Regions from separate parts of the Homo sapiens genome. Here region 2 is linked to region 1. The links come from fine-mapping of genetic effects on gene expression. A gene starts in region 1. The other region holds a variant in brackets. All regions are shown on one strand. Distances are from middle to middle. Region 1 holds the start of LINC02897 (long intergenic non-protein coding RNA 2897). Region 2 has its middle 27 kb from the start of ZNF124.

What was found. PIP is the estimated chance that this variant, and not a neighbour inherited with it, causes the effect. A credible set is the group of variants that fine-mapping cannot tell apart.
Region 2: its variant is the best candidate, but not a certain one, in a credible set for the expression of LINC02897 in substantia nigra (GTEx, PIP 0.76).

Annotation. Positions count from the first base shown.
Region 1 is chr1:247,109,177-247,114,547 of GRCh38, reverse strand. LINC02897 (long intergenic non-protein coding RNA 2897) reads left to right here and starts at 2,131. Exons shown (of 1, transcript NR_167894.1): 1 at 2,131-4,393. FLJ39095 (a long non-coding RNA gene) reads right to left here. Exons shown (of 3, transcript NR_147502.1): 3 at 4,987-5,371.
Region 2 is chr1:247,142,730-247,148,100 of GRCh38, reverse strand. It overlaps a transcript of ZNF124 not described here. Among named protein-coding and RNA genes, the nearest start is that of ZNF124, 27 kb to the left of the region's middle. The variant G/A (reference allele first, on the strand shown) is at 2,612.

The DNA.
Region 1 (5,371 bases):
GGGTGCGAGTGGGCGGGGGCCCCGAGGCAGCCCACGCCCCAGTGCCTGCTGCTTCTCAGCCCAGAGAAGGGACTTTCACCCCAAGGGCCCAGTCTCTGACTCGCCCCAGGAGGACCCTAGGTGCCCCTCACAGATGGAAATGGGGTCCCTCAGGCAGCACCTCCTGGGAGTCCTCTCCTCTCCACCAATGACAAGCAAGACCTTCAGGGTAGAGTTGTGGCAGCCACACCTCCAGAGACCCCTTGGCTGCTCCTGGACCACACAGCTGCTCAGGGAACTTTAACCTCTGGCCCCCTCCACACAGCCTGGTATGACCCCTGCAGGCACTCACCTGTCACTCGCACACAGAAGGGCACAGTACACACAACCTGGGTGAGCCGCTGCCAGCAGCTATTGGCCTCAGCGTTCTCTCGAAGGCATTGAGCACCAGCAGCCACCGCTGCTGAACATCAGGATGCAGTTCAGGACACCAGCCCTGCCCCAACCTTGACCCAGACAGGGGGTGTCATGGGACCACTGCTGGGTGGGTGGCAGCTCAGCTCCAAGGTGTCCCCATTGGTTAAGAGTAAATATTCCTACTGGCCAGAATCAGGCACTGGGATCTCTGCCAGGGAGATGGTCAACTGTGATGCAGGGACCCCAAAACCTGGCACTCCAGGACTCAACACCCCCATAGGGAGGCCCCATGGCACCCCCACTTTACAGGCACACCAGCAGAGGCCACTGGAGCCCTGAGTGAGGAAGGAGCCAGCCCAGAGCCTGGGGTCTCAGCAGACAGTGCTCAAAACCAGGCATGGGCTGGAAACTCCCTAAAGAGCCGAGGGTCAATATTTTCAACTTTGTCAATGCATCCGTCTCAAGGACGGGGCCCTGCAGTTGCAGCGTGACCGCAGCCTTCCACAGACAACATGTGAATGAACAGGCAAGGCTACACTCCCAGAAAACTTTACTATGGACATGGAAACTTCTAATTGGAAAGTGTCATAAAGTGTTCTTCTTCTTTTGATTTTTTTTTTTCCCATCACACACATCAGAGAACAAAACTGCTGTGCCAGGATAGGGTGAAAATGTTCCCCTCCTGCTGTGGGTCCCACAGCACCTGCTCCTGCCAGCACCCCCACCCCACAAGGTGCTGACCCAACCAGGGTGCCACATGCCAAGAACCGCCCAAAGGCTGTGGCAACCTGGAAGTGCTGTTCAGCGCCTGGGCATGTTTCCCGGTCACAGTCTCCCTGACTTTGCTGGTCACTGGCCCTGTGCCTGTTTTTCCCACTGTGGCAAAAGGTGATCTCACCCCGAAGGCAGGAGGGTCTGACAGTAGAGGGCGGAGATATTTCCTGTCCTGGGTCTCCTGCCCAGAGATCACTGTTCATCAGGCCATGGCTAGGCCAGTCTGCTGGGGGAACTGTGTTCCCTGTCCCCTGCCTTGGGAGTCTAGTGGCCAGATCCAGGTTGTTACAGTTAAGAGCCCCCAGTGTACTGGGGGAAGCCCCGGGGGGAGGGGGTGGGGATGGAGGTGGAATGATGCTCCATCAAAAGGGCCCTGGGGTGGGTCCCAGAGAACAAACATCAAATTGAGGCCCTTTTCTGAAGCTGGCTGCCCAAGGAATTTGCGTTTTGGAGTAAGATGAGAACATGGGGTCAGGGAAGAAAGCATTTTGGTTTTGGAAATGCACAAAGTTCTCTGAGGCTCTCTGAGGTCCAGATGTTTCGCTAGGTATGTGCTTTAAAAGGGCCCAGGAGGAGTGGGGGCGCCCAGAAGGGACAATGCAGCCAGGGGCCAAGGTCTGGCCTGCCTGCCTCCCCACCTACAGGCATTCCAGAGTTTCGTACAAAGTCAGAAAGATGTGCGGCCAAGGAGGGCTAATGCGAGTTTATTTGGATTGTCCAGTTTAATCGTCAAAACACCCCTGACATACGGGTCCTTCCTGGCAGGTGAGGAAACTGAGGTTCGAGTAGGGCATCCAGAGCTGGGGCGGGCAGTTGGCAGCCTGCAGCCCCTGAGGTCCCGGCAGATCTTCCCTGGCCCCCAGCCAGGCACGCTGCACACTCCAGCTCATTCACCTGCCAATCACCTGTCCAGGACTCAGGCCGGCGGGGCCTCCCGTCCTCCCGCCAGCCCCCTTGCTCATCGCTGGGGCCTCCCTGCGAGGCTGTCAGCGGCCGAGGTGGGGGCCCTTGCCGGGGTGAGGAGCCGATCGTCCACCGGATCAGGCCCCCTGCAGCAGCCCGCCTGGAGCCCGAGCATGGCCGGGCGGGGAAGGGGCGGCGGCACCGGAATTGCTCCGCCCAGCTAAGGCCGGGGCCGTGGCTCCTGTGCAAGATGGGCCTGTGCACCCTCCAGCCCCTGGGCCCTCCTCGAAAATCCTCCACATCCTGCGGGACCTGGACCGCCAGCGGCCTCCCAAGCCTGGGCCATTTGCCCCGTCGCCTCCGCCTGGCATTCGACTTCTTAGAACCGCGGGCACGAGGGCAGCGTGGGGGCAGTGGTGGCTGTCAGTCCACGCGGGCCGCCGAGAGGACGCGCCCACCCCACCCTCCAAACGCCGTCCTCCTGCTTCAGCCAGAGCCGTCCCTGACATGGGCCCAGGGACGCGGCTGCAGAGGCCACTTCCGGTCACTCCCCGCTGCGGCCTCGCGCTCCGGGAGCCGCACCCTCCGCTGCGCCAGCTCCGACCGCAGTCTTCGGGAGCAGAAGCAGCGCCGCGCGGGCCCTGACCCCACACCCTCCCCGGCGCCTCCGCCTGCAGGACCCCGGCCCTCCCCGGGCTCGCTGGGTCCCTCCGCCCCGGCCGCTCCCCGCACCGCGCGCGGTGCCTACGAGCTCCAAGGCGGCGCCAGCCAAGACGGTCCCGGCCAAGCGGCGGTGGGTGCGACCCCCACCACGGGCCCCGGCACCGGCGGGGAGGGCGCGCTCCTAGGCTGCGGGAGCGGACGGACCCCTCCGACTTCGGCCACCTGGCGCCGCCGCCTCCTCCCCGCCGAAGTCCCTCCCGGGGCAGCCGCCGCAAACTTTCCGGAGCGGGAGCGACTGTGAACCCGAGTCCTCCCGGCGCCCCGGGCCCTTCGCGCGCCTGCCGGTCCCCGTAGCCCGGCCCTGCGCCCGCCCGGGCCCCACTACTGCGGCCGAGCGATCCGGCGTGACCGCGGGACCCACAGGGCGCCCCTGCCCCGCGGCTCTCTCCACCCCCGCGCGCTGGGGCTGCGGCGCCGTGTCTGGCGCGAGGCTGGGGGCCGAGGGTGCGTAGTCGGGGGAGACAGCCGGTCCTAGGGGGCCCTTTGGCCGGGCGCGGGGGCTCACGCCTGTAATCCCAACCACTGGGGAGACTGAAGCGGGAGGAGCGCTTCAGTGCAGGAGTTCGAGAGCTGGTGGGGAAACCAGCCCCACACCACCCGGCGGGTACCCCGAGTCCGGCGCAGACAAAGGATTTAGAAAGAGAATCACAGTTTAACCGGCGGGTCCAGGGGACCAGGGCGTCGGAGGCTTGCTCGCGGCCCCGAGCTCTCGGCCTCCACCCAATTTATTGGTTTACCAGCTCTTCGTTCTTAGGGCAAATGGGAGGGGTGAGAAGGGATGAGGAAAAGGATTAATCAATGAAGGAGAACTCGTGACTCATTTAATAAGATGTGTAGCCGTGGCGGTTTCTGTGAATTTCCTCTAGCAAAGGCGTGTGTCTAAACTATTTAAGATCTTTACCTTATCCGGACTGAAATGCGTGGGAGCGGGTTTCAGGAGCAGCCAAGATGTTTGATTGTACTCCACTGCTTCAAGGGAGTGTTATCTCCGCCAGCACCTGTGGCATGCGTAAAGACATGAAGGCAAAAAGGAGACTTTTCTCCTCAGAGGCCGCCCATGGCTTCCCATGGATGTCTCACGCAGGGGGGACCAACTCATCTGGCATTCCAGAAACTCTCTTTCCCACATATGTCCCCCTTTTTTTGTCTCTATTAATTTTTTTTTTTTGAGATGGAGTCTCGCTCTGTCGCCCAGGCTGGAGTGCGGTGGCGCGATCTCGGCTCACTGCAAGCTCCGCCTCCCGGGTTCACGCCATTCTCCTGCCTCAGCCTCCCGAGTAGCTGGGACTACAGGCACCCGCCACCGCGCCCGGCTAATTTTTTGTAATTTTAGTAGAGACGGGGTTTCACCGTGTTAGCCAGGATGGTCTCGATCTCCTCAACTTGCGATCCGTCCGCCTCGGCCTCCCAAAGTGCTGGGATTACAGGCGTGAGCCACTGCGCCCGACTCTATTAATTTTTTTTTTATTAATAACCGCCATTGCTATTTCGTTCACTGTGTCTGGCTTCTCTACCAAGGCGCCGTCGGCATCTGTAGACTAAAAATAAACAGCATAAACAGACACAAACCAAAATAAAATTTGCAATTGTTGATCCACCTATGGTTTTAATCCACTTTAAAGGATTAGTGTTAGAAAGGCCATCAGCGGCTCCAGTAAGAATATCAGCTCCAGGCAACAGGCTGAGATGAGCCTGAGATGCCTCAAAAAGCTGTCTTTTCGGTTTAGCAATATCTAATGTTAAATTATCTTCTTTTCCTTGTAGGTGACGTCTAATCATCTCCCAATCGTGTTCAGTGGCATTGTAAGAGCTAGGAGTAATACAAAACTCAGAAGTATTCCAATCACATTGCATTTGAATTCTATGCTCCAAGCTCATAATCCGATCTCCCATCCAAATTACTGTTTGACGGAGATCATTAATTTGATTTGCCAATTTTTGATCTATTTGGCTTTGGGAATTCCAAAGCTTAGAATAATTTTTCTGCCAACTACCCACAAAGTCCGCAGTTTGAATAGAAGAGTGCAAAGCAACACCAGCAAGGCCCAGGACCACAGCTATTAAAGTAAATAGGAATCTCTTTGATCTATTAAGTATTCCTTTTAGTACTTCAGTGATAATATGTATGGAGGGACAGGCCTCCCAAGGTCTATTGAGGAAAACAGGTATCCAAACTCCTTCTCGGGCCCTAACCAGTAAAATGCTATTATCTTTATTAAAGGCAGAAATAATGCAGGTAAAAAGACGACAGTTGAGGCATGATATGGTTTGAGAGTCAGGTAAGATATTAATTTTTCCCACTGCCAACATAAAAGGAGGTTTAACACAACTCTGCAATGGGACCATCTGATTAGAGGTCATGGCTACAACAAATCGAAGTTTTTTACTATGGGTCTCTGTTTTACATTCTGCTTTCCAAATCCGAATTGGGCTTTGAGCCATCATTAATTTCCACAATTCTGGATGTTCTGGGCTTATAATTGGATCAATAATTTTTGGGCTTGGAGGAGCCATACCGTTCTCCTCCCACTTAATAGGGTAATTTGTTTCAATTCTTCTATGTAATTTTGGTGCA
Region 2 (5,371 bases), 34 kb before region 1:
AGCACTTTGGATAAATAGAAAATACTGTAAGTTCTTGTGGTTTTGCTGAAAGCAGTCAACAGGCTGCTAGAAACTAAAAGGAAATGTGGGTGTTGGTGCCTTGCTTATAAGCAGAGAATCTCTCTCTCTCTATGTACTCGCTGATACCAAAACTTCACTGACAGGGCTTGGGCAGGGTTCACCATGAAAGCAGAAATGTCACAAAACAATGGAGGTGGGGCCTTTGGGGCTAACTCAATGTCTTCTTGTGTTTCTACACCAAAATTTACAGTTAGAATTTTGTTGTATGTGTTTGTGCTTCCCTGTCCCCTAAGTGCCGGAGGGGATTATTCCAGTCTGGGTGGGAGACAGGTAGAAGAGTGTGAGAGAGACAGAATTCTCCATTTGCCACAGAGGGCAGGTCAGTCTTTATCATGAGAACCTTTACACTCTGATATGCAAAATGTTCACCCTGCATGAGCTGTTAGCTGCAAAGACAGAGGTGTCTGTCTCAGTGCTCCTGTCTAGAATAGTAATATCTCTCTGCTAGTAGATGTAGCTGATAATTGAGACTGTGCTTCAAAAAGTTAAAGAAGCAGCCAGGCGCAGTGGCTCACGCCTGTAATCTCAGCACTTTGGGAGGCCGAGCCGTGTGGATCACGAGGTCAGGAGTTCGAGACCAGCCTGGCCAATATGGTGAAACCCCATCTCTAATAAAAATACAAAAATTAGCCAGGCATGGTGGTGCATGCCTGTAATCCCAGCTACTCTGGAGGCTGAGGCAGGAGAATGGCTTGAACCCAGGAAGCGGAGGTTGCAGTGGGCTGAGATCGTGCCACTGGACTCCAGCCTGGGCAACAGAGCAAGACCCCGACTCAAAAAAAAAAAAAAAAGTTAAGCCAATGACTAACAGAAATCCTTGAGTTTACAGGATGGCAAATTAAAAAAAAAAAAAACTTGCTAAAACACTGAAATTCCCTCCACTTACGAGATAAAAGTAATTAGCTGAAATTGGTTTAAACCAATAGAACCAATGGGACTCTGCACAGAATGAGCTTGCTGACATCATAGCCTGAATTTCCACTATGTTTCCTACTAACTCCCCCCAAATTTGCACATATGACCCATGAGGAAGCATGAAGAGATAACTGGGCATGCCCATGGACATTCCAGACCTCCCATTATCATCCGCTAGTCACCTCCTAACCTCAGAAGCTACCCCCCGGTACCTGTTCTAGTAGAAATTCTGCCTTGATGCCAGCAGAGGGAGACAGATTCGGGCTTGGGACTCCTGTCTCTTTGGGAGTGAACTTTCAACATAAAGCTTGTCTCAAAAACAAAAATCCAGTGACAACTCAATGTATTGGCTCTTAGCACATTGGATAGTAAGCACTGTTTTCTCAATAACAAGAAGACCTGAAAAAAACCCAGAGTTCTGCTTTCCAAATAAGGTTTAGTGAAGCTAAGTGGACATATTTTCATTGCTTAATTCTTCCAGCAGTCAAGAAAAACTTGATCACTTTGCCATTTGAGGCCTTTGACAAAAAGAGCCTGCACCTAAAGATATTCTTTGGGGTGTCTGACTCATAGCCACCCTGACACCACTGCAGGTTACACTAATGTGAAAGTCAGTTATAAGCTTGCTACAGAACTCCAGTCAAACTGAATCCAAACTCAAGGAGGGCTGGGGGCTGCCTAGCTTTGTATTCCAATTTTGAGGTGGGTCAATTTGAACTCTTATGAAAGACCTCAAAAGACTACTTGTTAAATATAAATAATGTATTCTAGAAGGAAATTGGACTGGCACAGAAATAGTTCTAAAGGGAAAATCGGAATCTATCTTTGGTGGAAATTTTATGCCCTGCTGCACTATATGAAGCAAAGCTTCTGGCTCTATGGGGCCCCCACTTCACTAAGTATTCCCTAAATTTCTGTCCCTGCTTTACCAATACATGGTGTTCACTGAGCTACTGTCTATGGTGGCTTCTGAACTTCAGTGTCAGCCATGCGGAACCTGAGTGGGGTGGTCACACCACTCAATGGTCAGAACTCAGGGTCATTGCTCACATTATAGCTGTTTGGTCTTTTGCATTAAAAACTATAGACTGTCTGAAAAAAGGAAACCTTTCAGGCTGCAAACTGGAAATAACCTCAGCAGCTGATTTACTGCTGTGTCCAGTCACTCAATTACAAGTCTTTGGCCGGGCGCAGTGGCTCACGCCTGTAATCCCAGCACTTTGGGAGGCTGAGGCTGGTGGATCACCTGAGGTCAGGAGTTTGAGTTGGCCAACATGGTGAAACCCTGTCTCTTCTAAAAATACAAAAATTAGCCAAGCATGGTGGTAGGCGCCTGTAATCCCAGCTACTCGGGAGGCTGAAGCAGGAGAATCGCTTGAACCCAGGAGACAGAGGTTGCACTGTGCCGAGAATGCACCACTGCACTCCAGCTTGGGCGACAGGAGTGAAACTCCGTCAAAAAAAAAAAAAACAGAAGTTTTTAATAAGAGCCTGTTCTCTGAAGAGACTGACTATAACCAGGCTGTGGATTGAATCTGAATCCATGTCTAATGCTGAGGGCAGCACTGCAGCCAGACTTGTGGTTCTTGGTGAAAGGTGATCTTTTTGTCTCACA[G/A]TGTGGGAGGCCCCCGACCGTTCTCAATAGAATGACTTCACCGACCTTTTGACTCACTTTGGAAGGTATTGTTAATACCTTGTCACTGCTCACACCATCAACATAAAAACTGACTCCAGACACACCATGTGTCCCTTGAAACTAATCTCTGTCACCTTTTCAAATTTCAGAACCATTTGCACTCTGACAACGTTGTGTCTTTTATCATCAAATCTACTAAAAATTGGCTGATTTTACCATCTTTTCCTTCTCCTGATCCATATGTTACAATTTGTTGACTGAATGTAATTCTTTCTAAAAAGGAATAATCTCTTTTTGACTGCCTCCAGGATAAGAATGAAATGGTTGAGAGCTGTAGAGATCTGTTTCCCAAATTTGAGATTCCACACTGACTACCTGAAAAGATGCATCTCACTGGCCAGGCGCAGTGGCCCACGCCTGTAATCCCAGCACTTTGGGAGGCCGAGGCGGGTGGATCACAAGGTCAGGAGTTCGAGACCGGCCTGGCCAATATGGTGAAACCCCGGTTCTACTAAAAATACAAAAATTAGCCAGGCATGGTGGCGAACGCCTGTAGTCCCAGCTACTCAGGAGGCTGAGGCAGGAGAATTGCTTGAACCTGGGAGGCGGAGGTTGCATTGAGCTGAGATCGGGCCACTGCACTCCAGCCTGGGAGACAGAGCGAGACTCTGTCTCAAAAAAAAAAAAAGAAAGAAAGAAAAGATAATCTTCCTTTCCGCTAAATGCAACCCTAGCTTAGTTTGTACTAGACTAGGGTTTAGAGCTAGTCTTTTGCGGGCTTTCAGAGAGTTCAAATTGACCCACCTCAAAAGTGGAATATAAAGCCACACAGCCCTCAGTCCTCCTTGGGTTAGGATTCAGCTTGACAGGAGCTCTGTAGCAAGCTTTTAGCTGACACCCACCTCAAAAGTGGAATATAAAGCTACGCAGCCCTCAGTCCTCCTTGGGTTAGGATTCAGCTTGACAGGGGCTCGGTAGCAAGCTTTTAGCTGACTTTCACATCAGCTCTAAACCCTAGCTTTCCCCTAACTGCCCCAAGCCTAGTTTGTAGTAGGCTGAGTGGCAACCTAGCCCAAAGTGGGATTATGATACTCCAACTTAGTTGTGGTTGAGTTTTATGTAAACATTTTTGTCGCTATTTCATCTGGCTTTTCTAGATAAAATGTCTAGGAGAAGGTAGGGAGTGACCAGAATAAAGGTGAAATTCTTGGTGCTGAATGAGATACACTAATTTTGTGGATGTAGTTGGGGAGGGATAGCTACCCGAAACCCGCAGAGTAAACAACTGAGACCTCAGGAGATATGGAGAATGGAAGGGCATTAATAACTTTTTGTCTTTCTGAATCACCCTTAGTGAGGGCCAAAGAAAAATCTGGAAATCATGTTGGGAAAGGACAGGGTTAGTATTGGAGCAGATGGTAGGGCAGATGCTGTGGGTTCATATCCTTTTGGTCTCTCCACATCACCCTTCACGGTCCTTTGGGATTGTTCTATCTCTCTCTGTGATGTGGATGTGGAGTTTTATTGAGCATGCATGCTTACTGCCTAGCTGTCTGAGGCTACGGGGGTAGATGATGGAGAACTGTTACTTTTTTTTCTGAGAGACTTAGTATCTCATGGCTGAGCTTAAGCTGGATCTATGGAGCACTGATCCCATTGTCTACTTCTGTGAGCTAGTGCTCCTCCATCTAGTTTCTACCATCTAGAGACGAATCTTATCAATACTTGGGTAAACCAAAGACATAAGTCAGGTAAGGGAATCCTAGACATAGCCCGACTCTTGCCTTTTTCCTCTTCTCACTTTAAATCTTGTTGGCTCAGAGAGTTACCCTCAGATGGAGTCTCTCAGGAGTAATTAGAACATTGTACTTCTAGAGAAGCTGGTGGAACAGGGTAGGGTTCCCAGTTCAAAGCTTCTGTCAAAAACTTCCAGTCTGTGTGTAGTAAATAAATCTAGAAACGATCCTAGAGCTCTGGATGGATCATTAAGAGAGGGCAGGATTTCTGTAGATCAGAATACCAGGACACATGTTCATCCGTCACCTTCCGGGGTCAAATTCTCGGTTAAGCCTGTGTGGTAGGGCTGTAGAGCAGTGTGTGCCTGGGAAAGCCTCTGATCACACATTTCCTCAGGGATTTTTTAGGCCTGATGTCCCTTTGAATTTACTTTAACAATCCTTTTGTAATTTTATTTTTTACATCAATTGTAACTTAGTATTATTATATATATAGGCATTTGGGTGTGTCTTGAAGGCATGTCCTGGTTTCAAACTGATTTGTGGTATATTATTGAATTAGGCCCATTTACTGGAATTATAAACTGCTATCCAACTACACAAAGAGCTGAGGATTCTGGGGAGGTCAGGATGGAGATGAAATAGAAGTGAGGAGAAAATAGCTCTCTCTCTCACATGCAGATTCTTTATGGATAAAATGCATAATTACCTAAAATTTAAAATACTCAAAAAATTATCTAATCAGTATGTAATGGAAATTATAGAGCAAAGAACAAAACAAACACCAAAATAATTTTCTTTTTTCTACATAAAAATTAAATAATTTACATAATGAAATATTCCATGATCCCAGTGTAAAATGCCAATAGAATATATGTAAAAAAAAAAAAAGACAATACCTGTATTAGATTTAAAATCTTCTACAATACATAAGATGAATTGAAATTTTTAGAGTAGAAGAAAGTTTAAAATTAGGTAAATGATATGAGCCAGGTGAAGAATA